2 separate regions of the Homo sapiens genome follow, and region 2 is linked to region 1. Evidence: fine-mapped expression QTL. A gene starts in region 1. The other region holds a variant in brackets. All regions are shown on one strand. Distances are between the middles of the regions.

The links.
Region 2: its variant is fine-mapped to the expression of PML in whole blood (TOPMed, PIP 0.92).

Annotation. Positions count from the first base shown.
Region 1 is chr15:73,990,191-74,004,264 of GRCh38, reverse strand. PML (PML nuclear body scaffold) reads right to left here and starts at 9,549. Exons shown (of 9, transcript NM_033238.3): 1 at 9,324-9,549; 2 at 5,789-6,261. The coding sequence starts at 9,452. STOML1 (stomatin like 1) reads left to right here and starts at 11,970. Exons shown (of 7, transcript NM_004809.5): 1 at 11,970-12,174; 2 at 13,808-13,914. The coding sequence starts at 12,042. RefSeq lists enhancers at 6,175-6,677, 8,967-9,136, 12,434-12,503, 12,564-12,693 and a silencer at 11,744-12,303.
Region 2 is chr15:73,961,142-73,976,647 of GRCh38, reverse strand. No RefSeq gene overlaps it. Among named protein-coding and RNA genes, the nearest start is that of STOML1, 23 kb to the left of the region's middle. RefSeq lists an enhancer at 3,235-3,444 and a silencer at 10,573-10,722. The variant C/T (reference allele first, on the strand shown) is at 7,431.

The sequences.
Region 1 (14,074 bases):
GGTGGCAGGTGCCTGTAGTCCTGGCTACTTGGGAGGTCAAGGTGGGAGGATTGCTTGAGCCCAGGAGTTTGAGGCTGCAGTGAACTCTGATTGCACCACTGCATTCCAACCTGGGTGACAGAGTGAGACCCCATCTCTAAAAAGTAAAATAAATAAAAATAAATAAAGATCCTTAACAAACAAAAACAGATTACTCACAGAGAAAAAATAGACCATTAGTGGACTTCTCATCTACAACACCAGAGACTAGAAATTTATGAAGCAAGGTTTATATATTCTGAGGTGAAAGCACTGTGATTATGACCTCAGAATTTTACACCTAGCTCAACTTTCCCTCACATGTGACAGCAAAAGAAGGACATACAAGTAAAGACACTTAAGGTCTCAGAAAGTAAACTCTGGAATAATTTTTTTAATTACTTGATGGAGTATTCCTGCCAAATGGAAAATTAATCACCTTAAATAATTCAAGAAAGGAGAAGAAAAGCTATAGGAAAACTTATCATGAGCAATGAAACCAATTAAAGTATAAGGTATGGCTAACAAGTGCGTTGTAATATGACCATGAAGCTTAATACCTGTTCAGAAAGGATGTTTACAAAAGAAAAAAAAATTAACAATTTGGTAGTAATCTGGAACTAAAAGTTCACATTATTTCAACTAAATCTGAAAGTGAGAAGGAAGAGGGAAGAAGAAAAACTATAAAAGTGTGCTAAATGTTTTATTTTCTCTGGAAGAATAGTTATATTCTACTCTTTGTGGTGATAGATGAGATAGGTTCTAGAGTGTGCATGTATGTGTGTGTTGGTGTGTGTATACACTTTTTTTTTCTGAGATGGAGTTTCACTCTTGTTGCCCAGGCTGGAGTGCAGTGGCACAATCTCAGCTCACTGCAACCTCCGCCTTCCAGTTTCAAGCAATTCTCCTACCTCAGCCTCCCGAGTAGCTGGGATTACAGGCGCCCGCCACCACGCCCGGCTAATTTTTGTATTTTTAATAGAGACGAGGTTTCACCATGTTGGTGAGGCTGGTATTGAACTCCTGACCTCATGATCCGCCTGCCTCAGCCTCCCAAAGTGCTGGGATTACAAGCGTGAGCCACTGCGCCTGGCCCACTTTTTTTCTTTTTTTAAGACAGAGTCTCATTGTGTCACCCAGGCTGGAGTGCAGTGGCGTGATCATGGCTCACTGCATCCTTGAACGGACAGGCTCAGGTGATCCTCTCTGAGGAATACCTCCACCTCCCGAATAGCTGGGACGAGAGGCATGTGCCACCATGTCCAGCTAATTTTGTATTTTTTTGTAGAGACGGGGTTTCACCATATTGCCCAGGCTGGCCTCAAACTCCTGGGCTCAAAATATCCACCGGCCTTGGCCTCCCAAAGTGTTGGGATTACAGGTGGAAGCCACCACATCTGGCCTATATATATGTTTTGATGGGGAAGTTACCACTCTGTAATTATCATTTAGAGAACTGGTGAAACAGAATGGAAGGAAAGGTAGAAAGTTTCGGCCAGACATGTTGGCTCACGCCTGTAATCCCAGCACTTTGGGAGGCTGAGGCGGGTGGATCACAAGGTCAGGAGATCAAGACCATCCTGGCCAACATAATGAAACCCCTTCTCTACTAAAAATACAAAAAAAAAAAAAAAACTTAGCCGGGCATGGTGGCACACGCCTGTAATCCCAGCTACTCAGGAGGCTGAGGCAGGAGAAACACTTGAACCCGGGAGGAGGAGGTTGCAGTGAGCCGAGATCATGCCACTGCACTCCAACCTGGATGACAGAGCAAGACTCCATCAAAAAAAAAAAAAAAAAAAGAAAAGAAAGAAAGGTAGAAAGTTTCAATAGCGTGGAGATACACACACACACACAAGCACTAGAACTTACATATATATGGATATATACATATAGATATATGCATATATACACATATATATTATATACATATATTTGTGTATGTATATATATGTGTGTACAACAAATACAACTTTTCAACTCTAAGGATTATTGCTAGGAATATGTGAGTCCAAGGAATATCCTAGGCCGCTAAGAAAATCTCAATATAGTCTTAGATGTAGAACTCATACAAACTGTATAAACTGGCCATAGTGCAGAAATTAACAAGTATGAAATCGCACCATCACATTCCAGCCTGGGTGACAGAACAAGAAACCAAACATCAAAACCACTTGAAAATTTTAGAAAACACTATTCTCTAAAACTTTTCAAGAGAAAAAAATTTCTTTTTTTTTTTTTTCGAGTCAGGGTCCGGTTCTGATGCTCTGGTTGGAGTGAAGTGGCACCATCACAGCTCACTGCAGGCTCAAATTCTTAGGTTCAAGCAACCCTCCTGCCTCAACCTCCCAAATAACTGGGACTACAAGCATGTACCACCGACCATGCCTGGCTAATTTTTTTTATTTTTTGTAAAGATGAGGTCTTGCTATGTTGCCCAGGCTGATCTCGAACTCTTGACCTTAAGCAAGAGAACCTTTTTAAGAAAAGACTGAAATGAAATTTGAGAAATGATTGACTATGAGAACACTAATGAAGTTATCAAAGTTATGGCATACAGCCAAAACCATATACAGAGAACTTATGCCTTAAAAGAGTTATTATTAGGCAGGGCATTGTAGCTCACGCCTGTAATCCCAGAACTTTGGGAGACTGAGGCGGGTGGATCACTTGAGGCCAGGAGTTCGAGACCAGCCTGGTCAACATGGGGAAACCCCGTCTCTACTAAAAATAAAAAAAATTAGCCAGGCATGGTGGTGGGCACCTGTAGTCTCAGCTACTGGGGAGGCTGAGGCAGGAGAATCACTTGAACCCAGGAGGCACAGGTTGCAGTGAGCCAAGATCTACCACTGCACTCCAGCCTGGGTGACAGAGGGAGATTCTCAAAAAAAAAAAAGTTATTATTATTAAACAATAAAGATTGCAAATAAATGAATTATAAGTTCAAGAAGCTAGAAAATGAATAATGACAAAAGTTAGAAGGAAGAAAATGACAAAAATAAAATGATCAAACAGAAAGAAGGAAAACATTAAAATCAGTAAGCAATCTAAGGAAAGACTAAAAGTACAGTACTTTGAAAAGACTGCTAAACCACAAATATACAACATCAGAAATAAAAAAAGGGGGTATAGTTACAGGCATATAGGAGATTTTTAAATAATGAAAGATAACTCAGGATGAACTGGAAAATCTTCCAAAAATCTGACACAAGAGCCAAAACAGATTAATGCCATGGCAAAAATGGGAAAAGTTCCCAAAAATCTACTATAAAAAAGGCACCAGTTCCAAGATGGTTTTTCAAAAAACTTTTATAAGCCTAAATTTCTTATATTCTTCAAATTGTTCTAGAGCAGAGAAATTATAATAGAATTTTAACATTCACTGAGTATTTAATATGTGCCAGGCACTACGCTAAACAATTTATATGTACAGTTGGCCCTCAGTATCTGCAGGTTACGCACCCGTGGATTCAACAAATCTTGGATCAAAAATATTCAGGCGAAAAAAAATCAATTAAAAAAGTACCACAATAAAAAAATATACAAATTCAAAAATATAGTAAAACAACTCTTTACATAGCATTTACATTGTATTAGGCATTATAAGTAATCTAGAGATGACTTAAAGTATACAGGAGGGGATGGGTACAGTGGCTCACACCTGTAATCCCAGCACTTTGAGAGGCCTAGGGAGGGTTGCTGCCTGAGCCCAAGAGTTCTCAAGACCAGTCTGGGCAATGTCGTGAAACCCTGTCTCTACAAAAAATTTAAAAATTAGCTGAGTGTGGTGGTGCACACCTGCAGTCCTGTATAATCTGGTGGCTGAGGTGGGAGGATTGTTTGAACCCAAGAGATTGAGGCTGCAGTGAGCCACGAGTGCAGCACTGCACTCCAGCCTGGGCGACAGAGCAAGACCCCGTCTCAAAAAATAAAAATAAAATAAAAAATAAAGTATACAGGAGGATGTGTAGAGGTTATATACAAATACTATGCCATTTTATATCAGAGACTTGAGCATCTATGAATTTGAAACAGACTCCCATGGATCCCGTGGGATGGCTGCATTATCACGTTCAAAACATGAAAGCTTACAAATTCATTAAGAAATTAGTATAAGGCTGGGCATGGTGGCTCATGCCTGTAATCCCAGAACTTTGGGAGGCCGAGGCAGGTGGATCACCTGAGGTCAGGAGACCAGCCTGACCATTATAGTGAAACCCTGTCTCTACTAAAAATGCCAAAAAATTAGCCAGGCATGATGATGTGCACCTGTAATCGCAGCTACTTGGGAGGCTGAGGCAGGAAAATGGCGTGAACCCGGGAGGTGGAGGTTGCAGTGAGCCGAGATCGCGCCACTGCACTCCAGCCTGGGTGACACAGCGAGACTCCATCTCAAAAAAAAAAAAAAAAAATTAAAAAAAATTTTTTAAATCCAAAAGATAGAACCAGAGATAAAGCCAATTTCTCCTAATTTATTGCAATTTCAATCAAAATCCAATAAATATGTAAGTTTTAAAACTGCATAAATTGTAAGAGCAAAAGAAATGCATACATTTTTTTCTTTCGAGGAATTTGTTCCTGAATTCTTTAATTAGTCCCTTAATTCCTCAACGGAAACAACAACAACAACAGGCAAAGGACCTAAACAGGCCACTCGCAAATGCAGAAACACAATGGCCAATAAACAAGTGGAAAGCCACTCAACCTTTACAATAAGCTAAGAAACGTGGTGATACCAGCTGTTGAGGAGTCGGAGGGGAAAGCTTATTCTGATAGTGTGGGAAGTTTATCCTAAAGCAGGAAACAAATCACAGTCAGTTTAGCAGATATGTAGTTCAGCAAATATGTGGTTTAGCCATATATAGTTCTGAGTTGTCAAAAACCAGCGAAAAATGCTTTCATTTTGCAAGTGGATCTCTAAGAACCAAGAAGCGCCTTCTATGAACAATCTATTGCTAATGGTGAAAAGTTCACATAGTTATGCTACCTTTTTGGCTAAAAGAGGGAAAATAGGACCTGATAAGATTGCTCCTACCTGCATATATATTCGTAAAGAAACTCTCAGAAGAAACATTCAAAACTAGTAACAATGGCTACCTGTGGATGGGAAGAGGGAGAAGTGGTGGGAATTAGGCAGTTGGGCATGGACAGAAGATTGCACTCTCTCTCTCCTCTTTACAAATTTTGTTCGTGAACTGTACGAATGTATTACCTATTAAAAAACTGAGTTAAAATCTGTTTAATAAAAATAATTACAACTGGATGTGATTTTTTTTCCCCATACAGACATTCTCAGATAGCGCTGCCTGGTGTTAATGGTTTCAACTTTTCAGACAGAAACTAACTACTTGTCTCTGATCCTAGAATCCAGCCTTACTGAGATTCCGTGTCAGTGCTCTCGGAAAATTCCACTAAATTCTAAAGGGCAGTTTGGTAACATGTATCAAATGTAGAATTCCCGTCCCCCTACACCCAGCAGTGGCACTTCTAAAAATTTATCCTAAAGAAGTTACTGGATAAAGATGCAAAGATGATTCTGCAGCATTATTTATTACAGGAGGAAACTGGAAACTTACTATCCACCTGCGTGGGGACTGGCAGCATAAATTGTGGTCATCAACACGGACACTGCATATCTGCAGACCACATTTAGAGTTGCAAGGCCCCAGAAGCTCCTTGTCCTCAGCTGTGTGACTCTTTGGATCTTTGCTCCTCTCGCCCTCTACCTGGTACTTGGATGCACCACCCCACCCTGTGCCGGCCTACTCACCTGGTCAGCGTAGGGGTGCGGTGGTTGGGGTTGGAGCAGAAGATGTTGTTGGTCTTGCGGGTGCCGTCCAGGAACTCACGCACCGACTGGTTGCGCAGCTCTGCTAGGGGCCGGGCCTCGTGCTTGAGGAACCACTGGTGTGCCTCGAAGCACTTGGCGCAGAGGAGCTGCTCGCACTCAAAGCACCAGAAGTCGGCCGACTCTTTGCAGCGGGTGCACACAGCCTGCGCATCCACAATCTGCCGGTACACCGACAGGCGCCGCTGCAGACTCTCGAAAAAGACGTTATCCAGGGCGGGTGTGTCTGCACCTAGGGGCCAGGGCGCCTGGCAGATGGGGCACTGCATGCCCGACGCCTCCAGGCATCCTGAGCACAGCGTGTGCAGACAAGGCAGCAGCTTCGGGCACTTGGCTTCCGCCTGGCATTGCTGGCAGCGCAGAAACTGGAACTCCTCCTCCGAAGCGGGGGCTCGCTGGGGGACCAGAGAGGCAGGTGAGGCCTGGAGAAGTCCCAAAAGCCCCCACCTACCGGCCAACCACCCTTACAGCTGGACCCTGGAGTAGGACCTCATATTCCATTCCAGCCAGTCATTGGATGATGCAAAACCCTGGCTTATCAGCACCCCAATACCCCCATTTATTCAGGCCCTCCAGCTCTCACTGCACCATTTATTGAGCATCTACTTCTCATCACCCACAGTAATAGGCTCTGAGATATAAGAGGTGTAGGATACATTCTGCCTTCAAGGAACTCAGTTTGGAAGGTAGATACACTAAGTACCAACCTCATATAAAGTGCTTAATGCACAGTTTGGGGGTTCATTAAAGAGGTAAGCATGGAACAACAATATGACCCAGAAATTCCACTCTTAGATATATAACCAAAAGATGTAAAAACAAGGCCCAAACAGATACTTGTACAACAATGTCCACAGCAACACTATTCACAATAGACAAAATGTAGAAACAATCCAAGTATCCATCAACAGATGAATAGATAAACAAAATGTGGTCTACACATATAATGGAATATTACTCAGCGTTAGAAAGAAATGAAATTCTGATACATGCTACAACATAGATAGACCTCAATGACATTATGCTAAGTGAAATAAGCCAGTCACAAAAGGTCAAACACTGTATGATTCTGAGGCAGGAGAATAGGGTCTGGAGGCAGGGAACCTAAGGCCGATTCCCTCTGACTTCCTAGAACTAAATCGAAAGGAAAACCGCAACTCTCCATGCCTCAGTAACAAAAGGAAGAGAGGCTACTCTCTTTGCAAATCACCCCATTTCCTGCAGGGCAGATGGAAAATTGAAAGTACGTCTGGTTGGTTGCTTTCTGCAACCAATGGGGTGAACACCAAGTGGCCAATGGGAAACCTCTAGGGGGTATTTGGAACCCAGAAGATTCTGTAACTGGGGTCCTTGAGCCCTGCTCTAGCCGCTCCCACCCTGTGGGGTGTACTTTCATTTTCAATAAATCTCTGCTTTCATTGCTTCACTCTTTCCTTGCTTTGCTGTACATTTTGTCCAATTCTTTGTTCAAAATGCCAAGAACCTGAACAATTTGCAGTCAAGATCCTCTACTGGTAACAATTCCACTTACATGAAATATCTAGAATAAGTAAGTTCATAGGGACAGAAGGTAGATTAGAAGTTACCAAGGGCTAGGGGAAGGAGAAAATGAGGAGCTATTGCATTACTGGGGCTCAGGACACACCACTTCAAAGTATGACTGCAGGAGGCTCTTGAAATATACTTCTTTGGCATATTTTAAGCTGGTTATTCTGAGAAACTGCTGATACAGGAATAGCTCTGAAAAGCTCTCCTTTTGTAAAAAAGAAAGGCATTTATATCTTAAAAGAAAATCTACATTAGTAAAATGATCTATATTAAAAGAGGGCTGCTCCAGACAACTTTTATTATCTAAGAACTTTTAATCTACATAGCAAGACAACCTCTATTCACCAAACAGCTCCTCTCCTCACCCTCCCATAACTTGTGTTATCACCATCACCCAGAAGCTCCAAGCTCTTTTCCGTAGCTCAGGATGTTATACAGGCTTCAATCATCTGACCTTTCTTTGAGTCTCATATATTGTGGGACTCCTGAGTATACATATGTAATTAAATATGGGTTTTCCGCTGGTAATCTATTTTATGACTATTTAATTCATAGGCTATTTAATTCATAGCCCAGCCAAGGAAACTAGAAGGGTGGAGGCAAGCCATCTTTCCCTCCCCTATGGTTTAAAGAGTACAGAGTTTCTGGAGTAATGAAAAAGTTCTGGAAATAGATGGTGGTGATGGTTACACAATATTGTGAATCTACTTAATGCCACTGAATGGTACACTTATAAATGGTTAACATAGGAACTTATCCATTAGGTATATTTTACCACATTTTGTAAAATACAAAAACAGGCCGGGCATGGTGGCTCATGCCTGTAATCCCAGCACTTTGGGAGGCCGAGGTGGGTGGATCACGAGGTCAGGAGTTAGAGACCAATCTGGCCAACATAGTGAAACCCCATCTCTACTAAAAATATAAAAAATAGCCAGGTATGGTGGCGTGGCCTGTAATCCCAGCTACTCGGGAGGCTGAGGCAGGAGAATGGCGTGAACCCGGAAGGAGGAGGTTGCAGTGAGCCGAGATCGCACCATTGCACTCCAGCCTGGGCGACAGTGTGAGACTCCGTCTCAAAAACAAACAGATAAACAAACAAACAAAAAACAAAGCAAAACAAACAAACAACAACAAAAAAAAACCAAAGTGCTTAATACAGTACCTGGCACATTTGAAGTGCTCATAAATGTTACCTAGTATTGTTAAGTAATGTTATTCTTAGTTGTAATAATGTTTATAAAAGTTACTGTAATACGGTGTCCTCTGTACTTTCATGAAGGGGAGTAAAAGGGCCTGAAAGGCAGCAGAGCAAGAAACCCAAGTAGTTCCTTTGTCGGGGGAGGTGGGAGGTGGGCAGGAAAGGTGTGGCAAGAGAAGGGTTCGTTGGGGAGGCTTCCTTAAGCAGAAACCACATGAGCTGGGAGGCCTTGGCAAAGATACCTCTTCAGTCTGAGCCAGTTTCTCACCTCGGATCTGGGAAGTTGGTTTTAGTTTTGCCGTGCCTGGGACATGCCCCTGGCTCCAGGCCAGCGCAACAGGGGTACTACCTCCATCCTCCCTAATCTGAAGTCCTGCATCTGAGGCAAAGTTGAGGCAGGGCTCGAGGGTGGGCGGAAGGGCCCAGGCCCGGAGGCCACTGACCCTTCTCACCTTGCCCAACTGCTCAGTGGAGAAACCGCAGCCCAGCGAGGCCGCCCCAACTCCTCCGTGTCCTCTTTTCTACTCTATCCTACCCTCCCTTCCCTGCCCCACCCGAGACGGTCAGGACCCTGGTGTCTGGACTTCCCGCTTTGTGTCACTCTCTAGGGTACTTGACCAAATCCTCCGTTAGACCCTCTCTTCCCGCCTCTCCCCACCACAGCAAACCAACAAAGCTTAACCCCATCATCCCCTAACCCAATAGTACCTCTGTAGGGCTGGGGCTGGGGCTGGGCTGGCGGCCTTCAGAGGGGGTCTCGGGGGGAGGCATGGTGGGCTCCTGGGGCCGGGCGGGGTCCTGCTGGGGCCTCGGAGATCGGGCGGGTGCAGGCTCCATGGACCCCAGCTTAGTTTCGATTCTCGGTTTAGATCTTGGAGTGCGTGAAGAGAAGCTGAAGGGGAGGCGTGAGCCAGTTGGCTGAGTCCCTTGAGCTGTCCGAAAGGGGAGGTGCCGGCTCAGGGCCCGCCTCTGGAGAGGAAGTGAGACAGAAGCTGGGGGCGGTTCTAGGGGGCAGAGAGGCCGACTGTGGGTTTTAAAGACACGCCCAGAGCGGGGAGGAGGTAGAGGCGGAGAGCTGCAGACCTACCGCTGACTTACGGTAAAGCGGGAGAGGTAGGGCAGAGCTGCAGGGGGGCAGCCCTGCTCCCGGCTTTGATCCATTCATCCGTTCACACTGGCACTGCTTCGTGCCACGTCCTGCCGGGAGCTGGGCGTACAAAGATGAGCCACACGCAGCCCCTGCTTTCTAAGAGCCGTAGATGTAATGGAAGAGCAAGCCTGCAAACGGAGACATTCTGGAAAGGAGAGCCCACAGCTGGGACCTGCAAAAGCAGTGGAAATTCACCAGGGATTTAGGGTTGTAGGTGGTGGGGTACGGGGGACACTTGAAACAGAAAAGATAGCTCTTGCAAAAGCCTGTTTGGGAACTAATTTTGGCCATTTTCAGATTTAAGAGGGAATTCATGAGAAATGATACCCAAGGAGTGTGCTAGGACAAGATCCTAGCTGAGGAGATTGAACCAGTTCTGTGAGTGATGGGAAGTTGCTGAAGGATTTGGAACCAGGGAACAACACGATCAGCTGTGCATGATGGGACAGTCACTCTGACAACCTAGGAGCAGGTGCCCTGGTCTAGGACAGTGGCTGTGGGATGCAGAGGAGGGACTTGATTCAGAGATCCTGGGAAGCCAGTGACTGGAGGTGAGGGAGCAGGATGATGCCTTGAGTGACAGCTGGAAAGGCTGGTGGATCTGAGGTGGTGGGGGCAGGAGGGAGGGGGAGAGCTGGAGAGCGGGTATGAAGAGGGTGAGGGGAGAGCCAGCTAGGTCTTCGCCAATGGAAAAGCATGTCAGACTCCCAGCTGGTAAGGGGAAAGGGGCACAGTTCCAGGTGACCTCACTGGGTCAGCGCCCCGGCTTCAAACTTAAACCATCGCAACCACTGTGCTGGCTCCTGTGTACCCATTCCGTACTCTGTTCCAACTTAGAAACAGACTAGAAAGGATGATGATAGGGCCTGGCTCTTGTAAACCTTACAGTCTGCAGGGTGGAGAGCAGGGGTTGGGCAGATACGCAACTTCCTAGGGACTGTAAGGCCTCAGGAGCCTGCCCTTCCCTCCAGCCTGGTCAGTACTCCCAGGCCTTTAGAGAATCAGTCCATGAAAGCCAAATATGGTGGGCAGCCATCTGCACAAGGGACCTGGAAGTGGGCTATGGCAGGATGGGGCTTCGGAGGCCAGAGGCGATTGGCTGAGGAGGCAGAGCTGGGGAAGCTTTATTCATTTCTTTGCTTGCTTTGGAAGATAGCCTGCTCCCAGACTACCCCAAAGTCCTGTTGGAAGTTAACACTTCTCAAAGGAAATTCACGAGTTGCATTCAGGTTTTCTCAAGCCCTGGAGAGGCAAGTTAATTCCAGGTACCTGGATCAAGGGGCATGCTCTTTCTGGACCTGCAGGACTGAGGGCCTCACCTCTGTGGTGCTCTGGGGCCCCTGCCCTCATGTAGCTCTGTGCTATCCCCTTCTTCCTTACACTCCCATGCTCCCCGAAGTCTGCATGTGAAACTTCTTTCTTTTTGTGCCAAAGTTCAGGCCTTCCTACTCCACCTTGATCACGGTGACCTGGCCAGGCCATTACTTAACAAATAAGTATTGAGACCTGCCCTATGCCAGTCCCTGCTTGCTGGGCTGTGGGTTCACAAAGAGGAATAATTTGCAGACTATGTCCCAGAGAAACCCAAAGTCCAGATATGGCATGTCCTGCCTCCAGTGTGAGAGAAGGAGTGCTGAGAAGGCTGATATAGCATGTCCTTGATCCTGGAGAAGATTGGCTTCCTGTAAACCCTGATGAGATCTTGCTCTCTCGCTCCGACTGCAGTGCAGTGGCACGATCATAGCTCACTGCAGCCTCAAACTCCTGGACTCAAGAGATCCTCCCGCCTCAGCCTCCCAAGTGGCTGGGACCACAGGCAGGCATCCCACGCCAGGCTAATTTTTAAAAATTTTTTGTAGAGATGGGCTCTCACTATGTTGCTCAGGATGGTCCTGAATTCCTGGCCTCAAGCGATCCTCCTGCCTGAGTCTCCCAAATTGATGGATTATAGGAGTGAGCCACCGTGCCCAGCTTCCCCTCCAGCTTTTCTAGGGCTGAGTAGGAGAAGAGGGGAGGAGGCGATGACCCCAGCGGGGTCCGAGGAACGCCGATCACACCCAGTAGCCCTGGGCTGCAGTTCGGTCCTCCCAGCGCAGGGGGAGCCATGCGACGGCGGAAGCGGGCCCCGGCCGGCCTCCTCTTCCTGCGCCCGCGCCGCCGCGGGTGGCCGCGCGGGTGAAGCCGGAAGCAGCAGCCAGGAGGGCGGGGCCGCGTAGGGCCCACTGGCCAGGGAGGGCGCCGCGCGGAGGCGCGGGGCGTGTCTCCTGTCAAAAGCCATGCTCGGCAGGTCTGGGTACCGGGCGCTGCCCCTGGGTGATTTTGACCGCTTCCAGCAGTCGAGCTTCGGCTTTCTGGGCTCGCAGAAGGGCTGCTTGTCCCCGGAGCGGGGCGGCGTGGGGACAGGGGCCGGTGAGTGGCCGCCTGGCACGGCGGAGCCGGGGGGGACCGGCCGGCAACCCCCAGGCCCGAATCTCTGCCTCCGAGGAGTCGGCCGGCCCGGTGCCGTCGCACCCTACGAGGGGGGACTGAGAAAGGGATACGATGTGGAGAGGGGGCTGGACCCGGCGCCTGGTGCTAGCGCCGATCCGCCCTCCCTAGGGTCATGGGGCTTTGGCCCCAGAGCCAGCCAGCGTTGCTCCTATCTTCCAAAACCTCACCTCACCACATTTGTCCTCGGCTCTTATCAGCCCTTTAGGCCTGGGAAGACGTTTCAGGTTTCTATTTCGCATAGAAGAAACCGAGGTCTAGGCAGAGGAGGCCACCAGCACCCTAAAGGCACCTGCTGCAGGGAAATGGAAGAATTTTCGCCCTAGGGGGCACCTCTAGAAGCCCGGGAACTAGGCATCTCCTGGATGTGCAGGCCAAAATGACAGGTCCTCAGCTGCCTGTTGGATCTGCCCTGCTTCTGTCTTGCCCTCAAAGTCTTCTGTGGCTCCTTTGGCCTACAGGCCAGATCCCACGCTGTTCAGCCTAACCGCCTAACCTTGGATTTGATCCCTCCCTGGCCTTCCTGTCCTGAAAGCTCTCCCTATCCAGAAGTCTCTTGAGAGGCCTGGTGGATCAGAGCCAGGCACAAAGTGGAGCCTCAGTGCTCTGGGGCTTAGCCCAGAGGGCAGGGCTTCCTGGAAGAATGGAGCAGGGCTCCCGACTGCTTCCTGTCCAGGGTTGGGAGGAAAGCGGCAAATAACCTCATCCCAGATTCTGGAGCTGTCTCGGCTTTGCTCCCAACTTGGGCTCCTGAATCTCCAGGGGCCAGGACATTTGGCTTGGATAAGCCTCATCTTTCTAGCCCTGCCCCTGACCCCGACCCCTAACAATTTTCTTGAATTGAAATAGGCAGGGTTTTTTTTTGTTTTTGTTTTTTGTTGTTTGTTGTTTTTTTGAGATGGAGTCTCGCTCTGTCCCCCAGGCTGGAGTGCAGTGGCGCCATCTCGTGAAATAGGCATTTTTTAATGGTCATTAAGGCATTAAAGTTGGGTGTGGAATAGAAAATAATAATCTAATTCCTCATCTGTGGCTCCCGTTGATAAGCTATTTATGATTTATCCCTGTAGGCTAAGGCATCATCTTCATAAGGACTCCTGGAAAGCACACTTCTGGGGCTGATGGTATAGGAGGAATGTGTTTTGCCAGCAGTATTCAGTGCATGTTTACAGATGCCCAGGTGCTCCTGGCTCCATGCCAGGTATGGGTAGGCAATATAAATTAAACGAGAGGATTGACCCCTACTCAGTCCAGTGAGGAGAGCATCATCACGCGGACTGGATTCTGAGATTGAATGGCTGTTGCCTAGCAGAGAATAAGGCCTTGTGAGGGTTGTTGGACTTGGGACAAATGAGTGTTGATGTATGGGAGGAGGGAACAGACCCTAACTTGCAGCTGCCCAAAGATACGGGAATATTAGGCAAGGAGCCAGATTGAGAGCCCTGAGAAGGAAGGAGCCTCTCGAGGGGAAGGTGGGCGTAAGGTACACTTGCCCAAGTTCACTCCGCTTGGCAGCTGTCGTGCAGGTCCAGTTGACCACCTCTGCTCTCACCTGCAGATGTACCCCAGAGCTGGCCCTCCTGCCTCTGTCATGGCCTCATCAGTTTCCTGGGGTTCTTGCTGCTGTTGGTCACCTTCCCCATTTCTGGCTGGTTTGCCCTGAAGGTAAGGCTGGCTGGGTCAGCCCCCAGGGTGGTTGGGCCACACTGAGAGCTTTGGCATTGATGAATAAATTTGCCTATCCTCTGTCCCCTTTCCCTAAATATTATTACCCCTTTGTGTAATGGGCTAGGCAAGAACCATTCATTCACATTGGTCAGGGGAG
Region 2 (15,506 bases), 28 kb after region 1:
GGAATATTTCTTCCACTATATTATCTGAACAGAATACAATTTGTTGCTCTTTAGTGATTTTGTTTCTCTGTGTATGAGCAGAAAACAAACTCAATTTCTCCTACTATACTCCAGAAACACACTTCTGATACCACATGTGTGGGGTTCCCCCACCCCCCCATATCAAGCAAGGAGCCAGTTCTGCAGTGGCCACCAGCTGGGTGTTCTTAATTCAATTCCAACACTATCTACCTGGAGATAGCGTCAGATCCCAGTCCCACAAGACCGTCCCCCACTTCCAGTGCCAATTACAAGCCCCAGGTTGTATTACCTGTACTTCTGGCCAACTGGCTATAAATCAGGATTCTCATGACCCTCTTCTTGGGTTTGATTAATTTGCTAGAGCACCTCACAGAATGCAGGGAAGCATTTGCTTACGTTTAGCAGTTTATCATAAAGCATATTTTAAAGGATACAAATGAAAAGCCAGATGAAGACATAAACGGGGCACACTCTGGAAGGGCCTCAAATACAAAAGCTTCCATCCCCGAATACAAAATCTTCCATACAAGACCACCTTCCTGGGAAACCCCTGAACTCAGTCGTTACGGGTTTTTATGGCGATTTCATTATGTAGGCATGATCAATTACATCACTGGCCATTGGTGATCAACCTTCGGTTCCTCTCTCCTCCCCGAATGTGGAGGGTGGGGCTCTGAGCAGACGGTTGGATCCCCTGGCAAGCAGCCATCCATCCTGTGGTTATAAACGTTAAGCTCAGTTGTGGCTCCAAACAACAAGCCCGACTTTCACTTTTTTTTTTTTTTTTTTGAGATGGAGTTTCGCTCTGTTGCCCAGGCTGGAGTGCAGTGGCGATCTCAGCTCACTGCAACCTCTGCCTCCCGAGTTCATGCAATTCTCCTCCTCAGCCTCCTGAGCAGCTGGGATTACAGGTATGCACCACCATGCCCACCTAATTTTTGTATTTTTAGTAGAGACAGGGTTTCACCATGTTGGTCAGGCTGGTCTCGAACTCCTGACCTCGTTATCTGCCACCTTGGCCTCCCAAAGTGCCGGGATTACAAACGTGAGCCACTCCGCCCGGCCCATCTTTCACCTTTATGCTTACTCTGGAGCTGCTCCAGAGCTGTTTCAAGAACAAAGGATGAAAGGCCAAATATTTTAAGGAAAGATACTCTTATCACACTCTAGTCTCCTAGGAAATTACAATGATTATATGGGCTGTCAGCCAGGAACTATAGACAAAAACAAAGAATAGATATATCACACTTACTAACTTCTATAAAACAGAATGAGCGTCTTCATGGAGCGGAGCAGAGGACGCAGGTTTTACAGACAGAATAAGCTGAAGAAACCAGAAACAAAAAACAAAGAACGGATCGGTCATTTCAAAATTACTTTCTTAGTAAGGCAAGAACAGGGAAACAGAACAATTGAAAAATAACTGGTGGCCAGGTGTGCGGGCTCACACCTGTAAGCCCAGCACTTTGGGAATCCGAGGCGGGTGAATCACGAGGTCAGATTGAGACCATCTTGGTTAACACAGTGAAACCCCATCTCTACTAAAAATACAAAAAAAATTAGCCAGGCATGGTGGTTGGCGCCTGTAGTCCCAGCTACTTGGAAAACTGAGAAGGGAAGATTTGCGCCCAGTGTGTTTCGGGAATTAATGGGTTCTCGGTCTCACTAACTTCAAGAATGAAGCCACGGATGCTCGTGGTAAGTGTTATAGTTTTTAAACGCGGCCTATCCAGAGTCTGTTACTTTTGATGTTCAGATGTGTGCGGAATTTCTTCCCACTGGTCGGTCTGTGGTCTCACGGGCTCAGGACTGAAACCACAGACCTTCCCAGTGAGTGTTACAGCTCTGAAGGCGGTGCGTCTGGAGTTTTTTCTTCTTCCCGGTGGGTTCGTGGTCTCGCTAGCTTCAGGAGTGAAGCTACAGACTTTCGCGGTTGAGTGTTACGGCTCATAAAGGCAGCGCGGACCCAAACGGTGAACAACAACAAGATTTATCGCAAAGAGTGAAAGAACAAAGCTTCGCCAACGTAAACTGGGCCTCAGCGAGTTGTCACTGCCAGCTTGGGCAAGCCTGCTTTTATTCTCTTATCTGGCCCCACCCACATCCTGCTGATTGGTCCATTTTACAGAGAGCCGATTGGCCCATTTTACAGAGAGCTGATTGGTCCATTTTGACAGGGTGCTGATTGGTGCGTTTACAATCCCTGAGCTAGGCACGAAAGTTCTCCATGTCCCCACTAGATTAGTTAGATACAGAGTGTAGACACAAAAGTTCTCCAAGTCCCCAGCAGAGTAGGTAGATACAGAGTGTCAATTGGTGCATTCACAAACCCTGAGCTAGACACAGGGTGCTGATTGGTGTGTTTACAAACCTTGAGCTAGATACAGACTGCCGATTGGTGTATTTACAATCCCTTAGCTAGACATAAAGGTTCTCCAAGTCCCCAACAGACTCAGGAGCCCAGCTGGCTTCACCCAGTGGATCCCACACGGGGGCTGCAGGTGGAACTGCCTGCCAGTCCCGCGCCGTGTGCCTGCACTCCTCAGTTCTTGGGTGGTCGATGGGATTGGGCTCCATGGAGCAGGGGGCGGCGCTCATCGCGGAGGCTTGGGCCGCACAGGAGCCCACGGAGCTGGGGGGAGGCTCAGGCATGGCGGGCTGCAGGTCTTGAGCCCTGCCCCGCGGGAAGGCAGCTAAGGCCTGGCGAGAAATCGAGCACAGCAGCTGCTGGCCCAGGTGCTAAGACCCTCACTGCCCGGGGCTTGCGGGCCGGCCGGCCGGCCGCACCGAGTGCGGGGCCCGCGGAGCCCACGCCCACCCGGAACTCGCGCTGGCCAGCAAGTGCCGCGCGCAGCCCCGGTTCCCGCCCGCGGCTCTCCCTCCACACCTCCCCGCAAGCTAAGGGAGCCGGCTCCAGCCTTGGCCAGCCCAGAAAGGGGCTCCCACAGTGCAGCAGTGGGCTGAAGGGCTCCTCAAGCGCGGCCAGAGTGGGCACCAAGGCCGAGGAGGCGCCGAGAGCGAGGGCTGCAGGCGCGCTGTCACCTCTCACCAGGAGGAGGTCGAGGCTGCAGTGAGCCATAATTGCACCACTGCACTCCAGCCTGGGCGACAGAGCAAGAACCTGTCTTAGAAAGAAGCAGGGACTGAGCTGGGGAGGAAGGCTGGTGCCTGTGCCCTGGGAAGAAGGGCAAGGTGCTCTCAGAGTTGCTCTGGGGACAGGGACTCTGCCCCACGTTCAGAATTCATCCCCAACCTTGGTCTGCATGCTGGGTATGAGGAGAAAAGTGGCCCAAGAGAAGCCCTAAGTCTCCATGCTGGCTTCTGGGCCCCATGGGAGCCCGAACCACAAAGCTATGCAGGTCACTCCAGAGGGCCCGAGTCACCCCGAGGAGGAGAAGCAGCCCGGGGAGTGGCGTCCAGAGGTCTCCCTGGGAGCCTCGGCTCCTAGGTCAGAGCTCTCGTTTTTTTCTGACGGGAACGCAAAGAAAGCCAGTCCCGAGCTTGTGGTGCCATCTTGTGGCAACACGGGAGATAGCTGGTTTCCTCTTTCCAGAGGCTGCTTTCCAGGGCCGGGGAGGGGCGGGGCAGGGCAGTGAGCTGCTGTAGTAGAGTGACGGTGAAGAGCGGGGTCTAGGGAATATTCACCCTGCCTAGCCTTTCCCAAATGCATTCACACACACACTCACACTCACACACACACCCCTGTTGTACCTGGTCCAGGTGCGCTTGACAGGGTTGTGGGGGTAGAGAGGAAGGTGGGAGGCTTTGGCCAGGAGAAACTGGGGGAGACGGACTACTGCGTCGCCAGAAACTGCAGATTCTGGATTAAATCTACAAAATGAGGCATTCTGAAATCAAACGGCGTTTTAAGACCTTGCTAGGACCAGATGCTATTACCTTTGGAAGTTCCTTCCCACACCTTATTAAATATTAAAATACACAGATTTCTTACGTTAAATATAACATAGCACTGTCAGGTAACACGAGGTGATTTTTGTATGTTTGCCTTGGAAATTACTTGGCTAAGAGTAATTCATTTATGGTGTAATTACCTACGCGTTCTCAGCCCTCCCTGGGTATTCATTTGCATTCTTAAAGTACAGTCACACCCTAAATAACGACGTCTCAGGTCAGTGATGGGCTGCGTATCCGATGGCGGTCCCATAGGATTATAATGGAGCTGACAAATTCCTATCACCTAGTGACGTCATAGCCGATGTAACATTTTAGCTGACACAAAGCATTACTCATGCAAATCTATGACGGAAGAAAGAAACAAACTTGGCAAACCACCATGGACATACTTCTGAAAAGACGGACACTTCTTCAAGAAGTGCCTCAGGCAGGTCCTTTAGGAGAGATTGCAGAAGAAAGCATTGTCCGCTGGGCGTGGTGGCTCACGCCTGTAATCCCAGCACTTTGGGAGGCCGAGGCAGGTGGATCACCTGAGGTCAGGAGTTCGAGACCAGCTTGGCCAATACGGCGAAACCCCGTCGCTGGGCATGGTAGCGCGTGCCTGTACTCCCGGCTACTTGGGAGGCTGAGGCTTGAGGATCCCTTGAACCTTGGAGGTGGAGGCTGCAGTGAGCTGAGATCGTGCCACTGCACTCCAGCCTGGGCGACAGAGTAAGACTCTGTCTCAAAAAAAAAAAAAGAAAAAAAGCATTGTTGCAATAGCAGGTGACAGCTCCATGCGTGTTGTTGCCTATGAAGAACTTCCAGTGGGACAAGGTGTAGAGGTGCAAGACAGTGATATTGATGGTCCTGACCCTATGTAGGTTTAGGCTAATGTGTGTATTTGTGTCTTAGTTTTTAACAAAAAGGTTTTAAAAGTAAAAATAAAATAATTGAAAAATAAAAAGTTTATAGAATAAGGATACAAAAAAAGAAAATATTTTTGTATAGCTGCATAATGTGTTTGTGTTTTAAGCTAAGTGTTATTATAAAAAGTCAAAAAGTTTAAAAAAAATTTTAAAGTTCATAAAGTTGTAGAAAGCTAAGGCTAATTTATTACTGAAGAAAAACTTTTTTTTTGAGACAGAGTTTTGCTCTTGTTGCCTAGACTGGAGTGCAATGGCACAATCTCGGCTCACTACAACCTCCGCCTCTCAGGTTCAAGTGATTCTCTTGCCTCAGTCTCCCTGGTAGCTGGGATTACAGGTGCCCACCACCATGCCTGGCTAATTTTTTGTATTTTTAGTAGAGATGGGGTTTCACCATGTTGACCAGGCAGGTCTCGAGCCCCTGACCTCAGGTGATTCACCCACCTCGGCCTCCCAAAGTGCAGGGATTACAGGCGTGAGCCACCGCGCCCTGCCAAAGAATAATATTTTTAATAAACTTAGTGTAGTAGCCTAGGTGACAGTGTCTTTAAAGTCTACAGTAGTGTACAGTATTGTCCTAGGCCTCCACATTCATTCACCACTCACTCACGGACTCACCCAGAGCAACTTCCAGTCCTGCAAGCTCCATTCATGGTAAGTACCCTAAACAGGTGTACATTTTAAATATTTTATATGATATTTTTACTGTGCCTTTTCTATGTTTAGCTATGTTTAGATACACAAATACTTATTATTGTATTATAATTGCCTACAGTATTCGGTACAGTCACGTGCTGTACAGGTTTGTAGCCTAGGAGCAATAGTCTATCTCTTATAGCCTAAGTGTGTAGCAGGCTACACATCACAGAGTGTGTAAGGACACTCTCTGATGTTTGTACAACATTGAAATCACCTAATGACACATTTTTCTGATGGTATTCCTGTGGTTAACAGATACATGACTGTGCTCCAAGAGTTAACATCTAGTCTACAAATTCTTTTCAAAAGTAATGAAATTCTTATGAACACTGCATTTAATAATTAAAGAGGCCAATAGAGAATTAATGACATAAATTAACAATCGATGACACTTTGTAGACATTTGATTAAACATTTATTAATTTGGATGATTCTGTAGTTTTTACATTTTGGAGCCAAGACTTTTCTCAGGTTTTAAACATTTATTTAGGTCCCTGAGAAGCTCATGGGCTTTCAGCATGTCCTCTGAGACCACTTTACCTGAAAGATAAGTGGCCTGATGTCACCTACCCATAGGAAAGCTATGAAGAATAAAAATTAGATACTAGATGAAAGCACTTAGCATAGTGTCTAGTAAACACTGAGCACCTAATTAGAAGTAGTAGATGTTAGTAAATGTATCTGCACACATGTACGCACAAACTCATTGATTCACTCAAACATTTTTTATTGGGCACTCACTATGTGCTGGGCAAGGCAATGTTCTAGGTGCCAAGGATATAGTAGGGAACAAACCCACCAAGAACCCTGTCCTTGTGGAATTTACATTCTAGTTGTGAGAGCTAGACATAAGCAATAAGCATTAAAAATCAGAAAGGAGGCCGGGTGCATTGACTCCTGCTTGTAATCCCAGCTCTTTGGGAGGCTGAGGTGGGAGGATAGCTTGAGCCCGGGAGTTTGAGGCTGCAGTGAGCTAGGACCACACCACTGCACTCCAAGCCTGGGCAACAGAGTGAGTCTCTGTCTCACACACATATATATATGTGTGTGTGTGTGTGTGTGTATATGTATATACATATAGGTATATACGTACGTATATACATATATATATATAGAGAGAGAGAGAGTGAGAAACAGAGAGAGAGAGAAAAATAAGAAAGGCATACAGTATGTTAGAAGGCCATGAATGCCTTGGGAGAGGGCCTGGCATGTTCTAGAACAGCAAGGAGGCCATTGTGGCTGGGATGGAGAGAGGGAGGAGAGTGGCAGAAGACCAGGCCAGAGGGGAAATGGGGCCAGCTCATGTAGGGCCTGGTAGGCCACAGGAAGGGCTGTGTTCAGTGGGAGCCCCTGCAGGGTTCTAAGCAGAGGAACATGAGGGACTGAACATACACGTGCACCATGGCCAGACCCTGTGGAAACTAGAACTCTGAGCCTAACCTGCAGCAAGCTGCCCAGGAAACCAACCCCCTCATCTGGAATCCACAGCCCAGGATGCCAGTCTGCTATAAGTCAGACATGAAGGAAGCCAGATCACTATCTCCAGTAGCCATCCAGGAAGCAAAACAATAACTTCTCTAACAATCAGCCCCGAAAGGCCAGGACTTGATTAAAAACTGGCAGCTTCCCTAATTTTTGTCCCAGCTTCCAACTTAGGGCCAGCAAGAGAAAGCCAAATATGCACCCACCCCTCCCCAGCCAATCTCAGAATCCCCTCCAAATTATCCCACCCAGCTTCTCCAGGCCAATAGCCTCCAATCAGGGCACACCCCAAGCCTTCCCCCACCTCCTTTCCCGCACCCCTACCCCCGGCCCACCGACAATAAGGCTCAGCCTGATTTTGAGTCCCTACAAAAATGCAAGTGATGCTGGCTGACAACCTTGCTA[C/T]AGCAAGCTCTGAATGGTTTTTGTTTATTTCTACAAATGGTAGGATCTGTCTTACGAAGCTGCTTTATTGAGAATAGATTGTATGTAAAAGCAGACCCATTAAGAAACTGTTCCAAGACTCCATCTCAAAAAAAAAAAAAAAAAAAAAAAAAAAAAAAAAAAAAAAGCGGCTGTTGCAATAATCCAGGCAAGAAAAGAGAGTGGTGTGGACCAGGCTGGTAGCAGGGCGGGAGGTGGACTCTGGTTATTTGTATTCTAAGTTGTTAATTTTGAAATAATTGTAGGGTCACAGAAGGTCACAAAGGAATGTAGAGAGAAGTCCCATGTTCCCTACCTCTCATGCGAACAACTCACATAACCAGAGTACAGTATCAAAACGAAGAAATGGAACATCGGCACAATCCATTGAGTTTATTCAGATCTAACCAGTTATGCACGCACCCATTTGTGTGTGTGTTTGTGTGTGCCTGTAGGAAATGGGAAATCATGTATATAGTGAGAAAAATAGAGTTGGCCTTTGTCCCTGGTTCTTGGCACAGATCTTTTAAAACCCTCCTAAAATTTCCTGAGTTACAGTGATGTTTTGTTATTCATAACAAACCCCTTTCAACCATACCTGAGCTTATGTTAATGAGGACCCTAAATAGTTTCTGGATACAGGCTGCTGATCAGAAAGACTAAGCCATGATTGATGATGAGAGAGTTGGAACTTTCAGCCTCACTCTCTGACCTCCAGGGAGTGGACAGTGGCTAGGGATGGAGTTCAGTCACCAATGACCAATGATTTCATCAATCATGCCTCTGTAATGGAACCTTCATAAAGTTCCAAAACAATGGAGTTTGGAGAGCTTCTGGGTTGGAACACATGGAGATGCTGGAGGGGTGACGCCCAGAGCAGGCAGGGAGGCTCTGCACACCCACCCTACAATACCCAGTCCTATGCATCTCTTCACTTGGCTGTTCCTGAGTTGTATCTTTTACAATAGACCAGTAATGGTGAAGTAATGTGTTTTTTTGAGTTCTGTGAGCCATTCTAGCAAATTATCAAACCTGAGGAATGGAGGTCACGGGAACCTCCAAATTTGTAGTTGGCTGGACAGAAGTGTGGGTAACCTGGGGACCCAGTACTTGTGACTGGCATGTGAAATGGGGGTAGTTTTGTTTTGTTTTGTTTTGTTTTTTTGGAGACATCGAGTCTCACTCTGTCACCCAGGCTGGAGTGCAGTGGCACGATCTCGGCTCACACAACCTCCGCCTCTGGGTTCAAGCAATTATCCTGTCTCAGCCCCCCAAGTAGCTGGGATTACAGGCACTCGCCACCACTCCTGGCTAATTTTTGTACTTTTAGTAGAGATGAGGTTTCACCATGTTGGCCAGGCTGGACTCGAACTCCTGACCTCAGGTGATCCGCCTGCCTCGGCTTCCCAAAGTTCTGGGATTACAGGCATGAGCCACCACACCCAGCCATTTTTTTTTTTTTTGAGATGGAGTTTCACTCTTGTTGCCCAGGCTGGAGTGCAATGGCGTGACCTCAGCTCACTGCAACCTCCACCTCCTGGGTTCAAGCAATTCTTCTGCCTCAGCCTCCCGAGTAGCTGGGATTACAGGTGCCCGCCACCAGGCCTGGCTAATTTTTGTATTTTTAGTAGAGACAGGGTTTCACCATGTTGGCCAGGCTGGTCTCGAACTCCTGACCTCAGGTGATCCGCCCGCCTCAGCCTCCCAAAGTGCTGGGATTACAGGTGTGAGCCACTGCGCCTGGGAGAAATGGGGGTAGTCTTATGGGACTGAGCCCTTCAGCCTGTGGAGTCTGACACTAACTCCAGGTTAGTATCAGAATAGAATTGAATTATTGAACACCCAATTGGTATCACAGAAGCAGAAAATCGATTGGTGTTGGAAATGATACCACTTATTTGGTATCAGCACAAAGACCACAAAAAAGCTTTTTTTTTTTTTTTTTTTTGAGACAGAGTCTCACTCTGTTTTCAGGCTGAAGTGCAGTGGCACAATCTTGGCTCACTGCAACCTCCTCCTCCCGGGTTAAAGCAATTCTTCTGCCTCAGCCTCCTGAGTAGCTGGGATTACAGGCACACACTGCCACACCCGGCTAATTTTTGTATTTTTAGTAGAGACGGGGTTTCACCGTGTTGGCCAGGTTGGTCTCGACCTCCTGACCTCGTCATCCCCCCACCTCAGCCTCCCAAAGTGCTGGAATTACAGATGTGAGCCGTCGCACCCAGCCAACCACAAAGTAGCTCTATGTAAATTTGCCCTATGTGTAGCCTGGAGTAGCCACCAGAATGACCGAGGTGCTCAACTGTACCATCACCACAAAGCCTCTCGTGTAACCCCTTTACAGCCACACCCTCCCCTCCCTTCTGATATGGTACTGATCTGGGTCCCCACCAAACCGGGTGGAGTTCTCATGAATGGATTAGCACCATGAGATCTAGTTGTTCAAAAGTGTGTAGCACCTCCCATCTCTTTTCCTCCTGCTCTGGCCATGTAAGTGGTGCCTGCCTCCTCCTTTGCCCTCCCCATGGTTGTAAGTTCCCTGAGGCCTCCCCAGAAGCTGAAGCCACCACGCTTCCTGTACAGACTGCAGAACCATGAGCCAATTAAACCTTTTGTCTTTATAAATTACCCAGTCTCAGGTATTTCTTTATAGAAAGAGGAGAACGGACTAATACACATTCCTAACTCCTGACAACCACTAGTCTATTCCCTCTCTAATTATATTATTTGCCGTGTAAATAGAATCATGCAGTGATGTATCCTTTTGAGGCTGGCTTTTTCACTCAGCAAAAGTTCATCCAAGTTGTTGCTTGTACCAATAGTTCATTCCTTCTACAGCAGAATAGTATCCTGTGGTATGAATATACCATAGTTTGTGAGTATTTTCTGGTTTAGGGCTATTATAAATAAAGCTTCTATGAACATTTGTGTACAAGTTCCACCATGAAAATAAGTTTTCATTTCTCTGGGAAAAATGCATGACAGTGCAATTGCCGGGTTTTATGATAAGTCCATTTTTATTTTTGAAAGGAACTGGTTATATTTTGAACATGGGGCCAACAGGATTATCTGACAAATTGAACGTGGGTTTGAGAGAAAAGAGGAGTCAGGGATGGTTCTAAATGAAAGCATGCTGGAACACAGTAAGGGCTTGGTAAATGTCAGCTGCACAAGTGGTAGCAAATACAGCTGCAATCATGAAAGAAATGAGAAAAACCACGAGGCACTGTAAGCCATGAGACATTGCCCTAGAAGGCATTTAGAGTCACTCATTTGCATATGTTAAAAGTGAAAGAGAAGAGTGTTTTATTTCCTCTTAGGATATAGAAAAACCACAAGGGAACATCATTCCCATTCTTTTCTGGGGGGGCTCCAGTGATCATCCCACCTCAGCCTCCTGAGTAGCTGGGACTACAGGCTCCTGTCGCCATGTCTGGCTAATTTTTTTTTTTTTTTTTTTTTTTTTTTTGTAGAGACAGGGTTTCCCCATGTTGCTCAGGCTGGCTGGTCTTGAACTCCAGGGCTCAAAGGGTCCACCCACCTCACCCCCGAAAGTGCTGGGAGTACAGGAATGAACCACCCCGCCCCCCGACTCTAACAATAACAAAACACCAGATAATTTGCAAAACCATAATTTCTTAAACCAGTCAGATAGCTGAGGTGGCAGGCAACCAAGAGAACTGAATTCCAAAGAGTGACAAGCCCCTCCAAGGAAAGGCAAGACCAACTGTCTTGGGCAGAGCATGTGGTGGGCAGGAGGGAGTCTGCCCTGCCTTCTGAGCTTTTTGCACAGGCCTTCACTGCAGGAAAAAGACTGGAGGCAGAGGGGGAGCCGGGAGAGACCCCTCCCCCTTGCTGGTGGCACAAGCACTCAAGCGGTGATTGACTGCTGTGCAGCGACCCCCACCTGCTTCCCCAGGACGATTCTCTCTGGGCAAAACCACGTGGGAGGCTGCACTCTCTGGCCCCAGGGCTGCTGCGGGAGAGGCAGAAACGAAGATCCACTGCTTCTGGGGCAGGATCAAAGTAAACACCACTTGCCCCTGTGGGAGGCGCAGGACGCACTCTCCTGTGTTAAACCCACAGGAGATAGAAGGCACGACAGGAGGGACAGGAGCACTTCGAAGACTCCACCTTCTGAGACCCTAGTACACAGGCTCTGCGGAGGCTGGGCCAGGAGAATGGAGCAACATCCCACCGTCCGGAAACCCTTTAACACACGTCCACAAACTGCCTCCACTACTAGCCCAACCAAGAGTAGCAGCAACGGCATTTACCACCAGGGGGCGGGCAAGAGCACACAGAGACATTTACCACCAGGAGGAGGGCAAGACCACGCATCCCCTAGGTAGTGCAGGCGAGCAGGGGTTGCTGAGAGCTGAGGGTGGAGCCGCAACTTCCAGAAAATTTCCGGGACCCTCAGGCTGTCTGTGAGAAACACACTTTAAATATAAAAACCTAGGGCTGGGGCGGTGGCTCACACCTGTAATCCCAGCACTTTGGGAGGCCTAGGCGGGCTGATCTCCTGAGGTCAGGAGTTCGAGACCAGCCTGGCCAACATGGTGAAACCCCATCTCTACTAAAAATACAAAAATTAGTCGGATGTGGTGGCACATGCCTGTAATCCCAACCACTTGGGAGGCCGAGGCACGAGAATCGCTTGAACTCGGGAGGTGGAGGTTGCAGTGAGCTGAGATCACGCCATTGCACTTCAGCCTGGGCAACAGAGCGAGACTCTGTCTCAAAAGAAATAAAAAATAATAATAAAGACCTAGATAGCCTAAAACCAAAGGAATGGAAAAAAGGCATGCCATGCAAACACTAATCCAAAGAAAGCTCAAGTGTCTATATTAATGTCAGATGAAGCAGAAACAGAGAATATTTCCAGGAATAAAGAAGGACTGTATATAAAGGGGTTGATTCATCAAGAGGACATCATAACTGTCCATGCATGTGCACTGGAGAACACAGTCAGGGTACATGCAATCGAGACCGTTAGAGCTGAAAGGAGAAATAGACACATCCACTCTTCTCTCAATATTTGGTAGAGCGAGTACACAGAAAATCAGGCTGGGTATGGGTAACTTGAATAACACTAATAACCAACAATCTGATTGACATTTATAGGACATTTCGCACAACAACAGCAGAATACACATTCTTTTTGAGTGCCCATGGAACTTTAGCAAGATAGACCATATTCTGGGCCATAAAGCAAATCTTAACAAATTAAAAATAATTGAAATCATACAAAGTATGTTTTCTCACCATAATGAAATTAAACTATAAATCAGTAACAGAAAGATATCTGGAAAGTCCCCAAATGTTTGGAAATCAAACAACACACTTTTAGATAACTTATGGTTCAAAGAAGAAACCATGAGGATAATTAGAAATATTCTAATGGAAATAAAAATACAACATATCAACACTGTCGATGAAAAGAGTCGAACTCTGTAAAATATTTTAGGAGATTTATTCTAAGCCAAATATGAGTGACCATGGCCCGTGACACAGCCCTCCGAAGCTCCTGAGAACATGTGAACATGTGCCCAAGATGGTCGGGGTGCAGCTTAGTTTTATATATTTTAGGAAGCATGAGACATCAGTCAAATACATTTAAGAAATACATTGGTTTGGTTCAGAAAGGAGGGACAACTCAAAGTGGGGACTTCCAGGCTATAGGTAAATTTAAACATTTTCTGGTTGACAATTGGTTGAGTTTGTCTGAAGATCTGGGATCAATAGAAAGGAAATGTTCAGGTTAAAATAAAGGATTGTGGAAACCAAGTTTTATTGTGCAGAGGAATCTCTCAGATAGCAGACTTCAGACAGAGAGGAGAGAGAGAGCAGGTTGTAAAATGTTTCTTATTAGACCTAAAAGAGTGCCTGGCTCTTAGTTGATTATCTCCTGGATCTGGAAAGGAAGGAAGGAAAACAAAGGGGCAAGGGGATTCTCTATAGAATGTGGATTTTTCCCACAAGAGACTTGCAGGGCAATTTCAAGCTATGGCAGGGAAATATATTTTGGGGTTAAATATTTTTTCCTTGTCTCGTAATGTTATACCAGAGTCAGATTGAAAAGTAAGTCACAATATATAAATAAAACCCATCTGATGAGAATTTAGGATTTGTAGGGCATGACTCCCTAGATCCCTTAGATAGAAATTTGGGCAAAATCAAAAATTAGAACTTAGTCCTAAAAACTCATGGGATACCATTTATTGCAGTGCTTACAGAAAATCTTTGTGACATTGTTTAAGTTAAGATTTAGATAGGACAAAAAACACAGCCCATAAAAGGAAAAAAAACCGATAAATTGGCTCTTATCAAAATTAAAAACTTCCGCTCTTTAGAAGGTACTAGTAAAAAATGAGAAGACAAACGACAGATTGGGAAAAAATATTTGCAAAACATATCACTGATGAATAACTTGTATCCAGAATAGATAAAGAATTCTTCCAACTCAATAATGAGACAAACAAGCCAATTAAAAATGGGCAAAGGATCTGAACAGAAATTTCATCAAAGAAGAGATATCCTGGCAAACAACCACATGAACACATGCTCAACATTGTTAGTCACTAGGGAAATGAAAATTTAAACCAGAATGAAATACAGTCAGCCCTCGGTATCTACGGGTTCCACATCCACGGATTCAACCAACTGCACAGTGAACACACAGATAAAAAATATTGAAAAAAATAACAATACAACAATAAAAACAATACAAATAAAAACAATACAGCATAACAACGATTTACATAGCATTTAAATTATATTAGGGATCATAAGTAATCTAGAGATAAATTAAAGTAGAGCGGGTTATGTGCCTGGGTTATATGCAAACGCTGCACTATTTTATATCAGGGACTTGAGCATGCCCGGGGTTTCCTATTTTCAGGAGTCCTGGAATCAGTCCCCAGGAATATGGAAAGATGACTGCCACAGGATACCTACTAGAATGGCTTTTAAAAAGAGGATACAGGCCAGGCACAGTGGCTCATGCCTGTAATCCCAGCATTTTGGGAGATTGAGGCAGGCGGATCACGAGGTCAAGAGATTGAGACCATCCTGGCCAACATGGTGAAACCCTGTCTCTACTAAAAATACAAAAACTAGCCAGGTGTGGTGGCACGTGTCTGTAGTCCTAGCTACTTGGGAAGCTGAGGCAGGAGAATCGCTTGAACCCAGGGGGCAGAAGTTGCACTGAGCCGAGATTGCACCACTGTACTCAAGCCTGGCAACAGAGTGAGACTCCGTCTCAAAAAAAAAAAAAAAAAAAAAAAAAAAAAAAAAAAAAAAAAAAGAGGATATAATGTGTCTGGTGAGCATGTAGCCACTTTGTTTTTGTTTTTTGTTTTCAGACAAGATCTCCCTCTGTCACCCAAGTTGGAGTGCAGTGGCTAGACCATAATTCACTACAGCCTCAAACTCCTGGGCTCAGGTGATCCTCCCATCCCTGCCTTCTGAGCAGCTGGGACTACAAGTGCCCACCACCATCCCTAGCTAATTGTTGTGTTTTTTGTAGAGACAGTGTTTCACCATGTTGCCCAGGCTGGTCTTGAACTCCTGAGCTCAAGTGATCCGCCTGCCTTGGCCTCCCAAAGTGTTTGGATTACAGGCATGTGCCACCACCCCTGGTCAAATATCTTAAATAATGTACATTTCAAAATTATCAACAGAATAAATTCCAAATGTTCTTACTACAAAAAATAAGAACAGTATTTGAGGTGATGGATATGTTAATTAGCTCAGTTTGATTATTCAACATCATATTAATACATCATAACATCACTTCATACTCCATAGATACAACTGTTATTTGTCAGTTTACAATTAAAAATAAGATTAGGCCGGGTGCAGAGGCCCATGCCTCTAATCCCAGTACTTTGGAGGCCGAGGTGGGCGGATCACTTGAGAGACCAGCCTGGCAAACGTGGAGAAAACCTGTCTCTGCTAAAAATACAGAAATTAGCCAGGCGTGGTGGTGGGCACCTGTAATCTCAGCTACTCAGGAGGCTGAGGTAGGAGAATCGTTTGAACCCGGGAGACAGA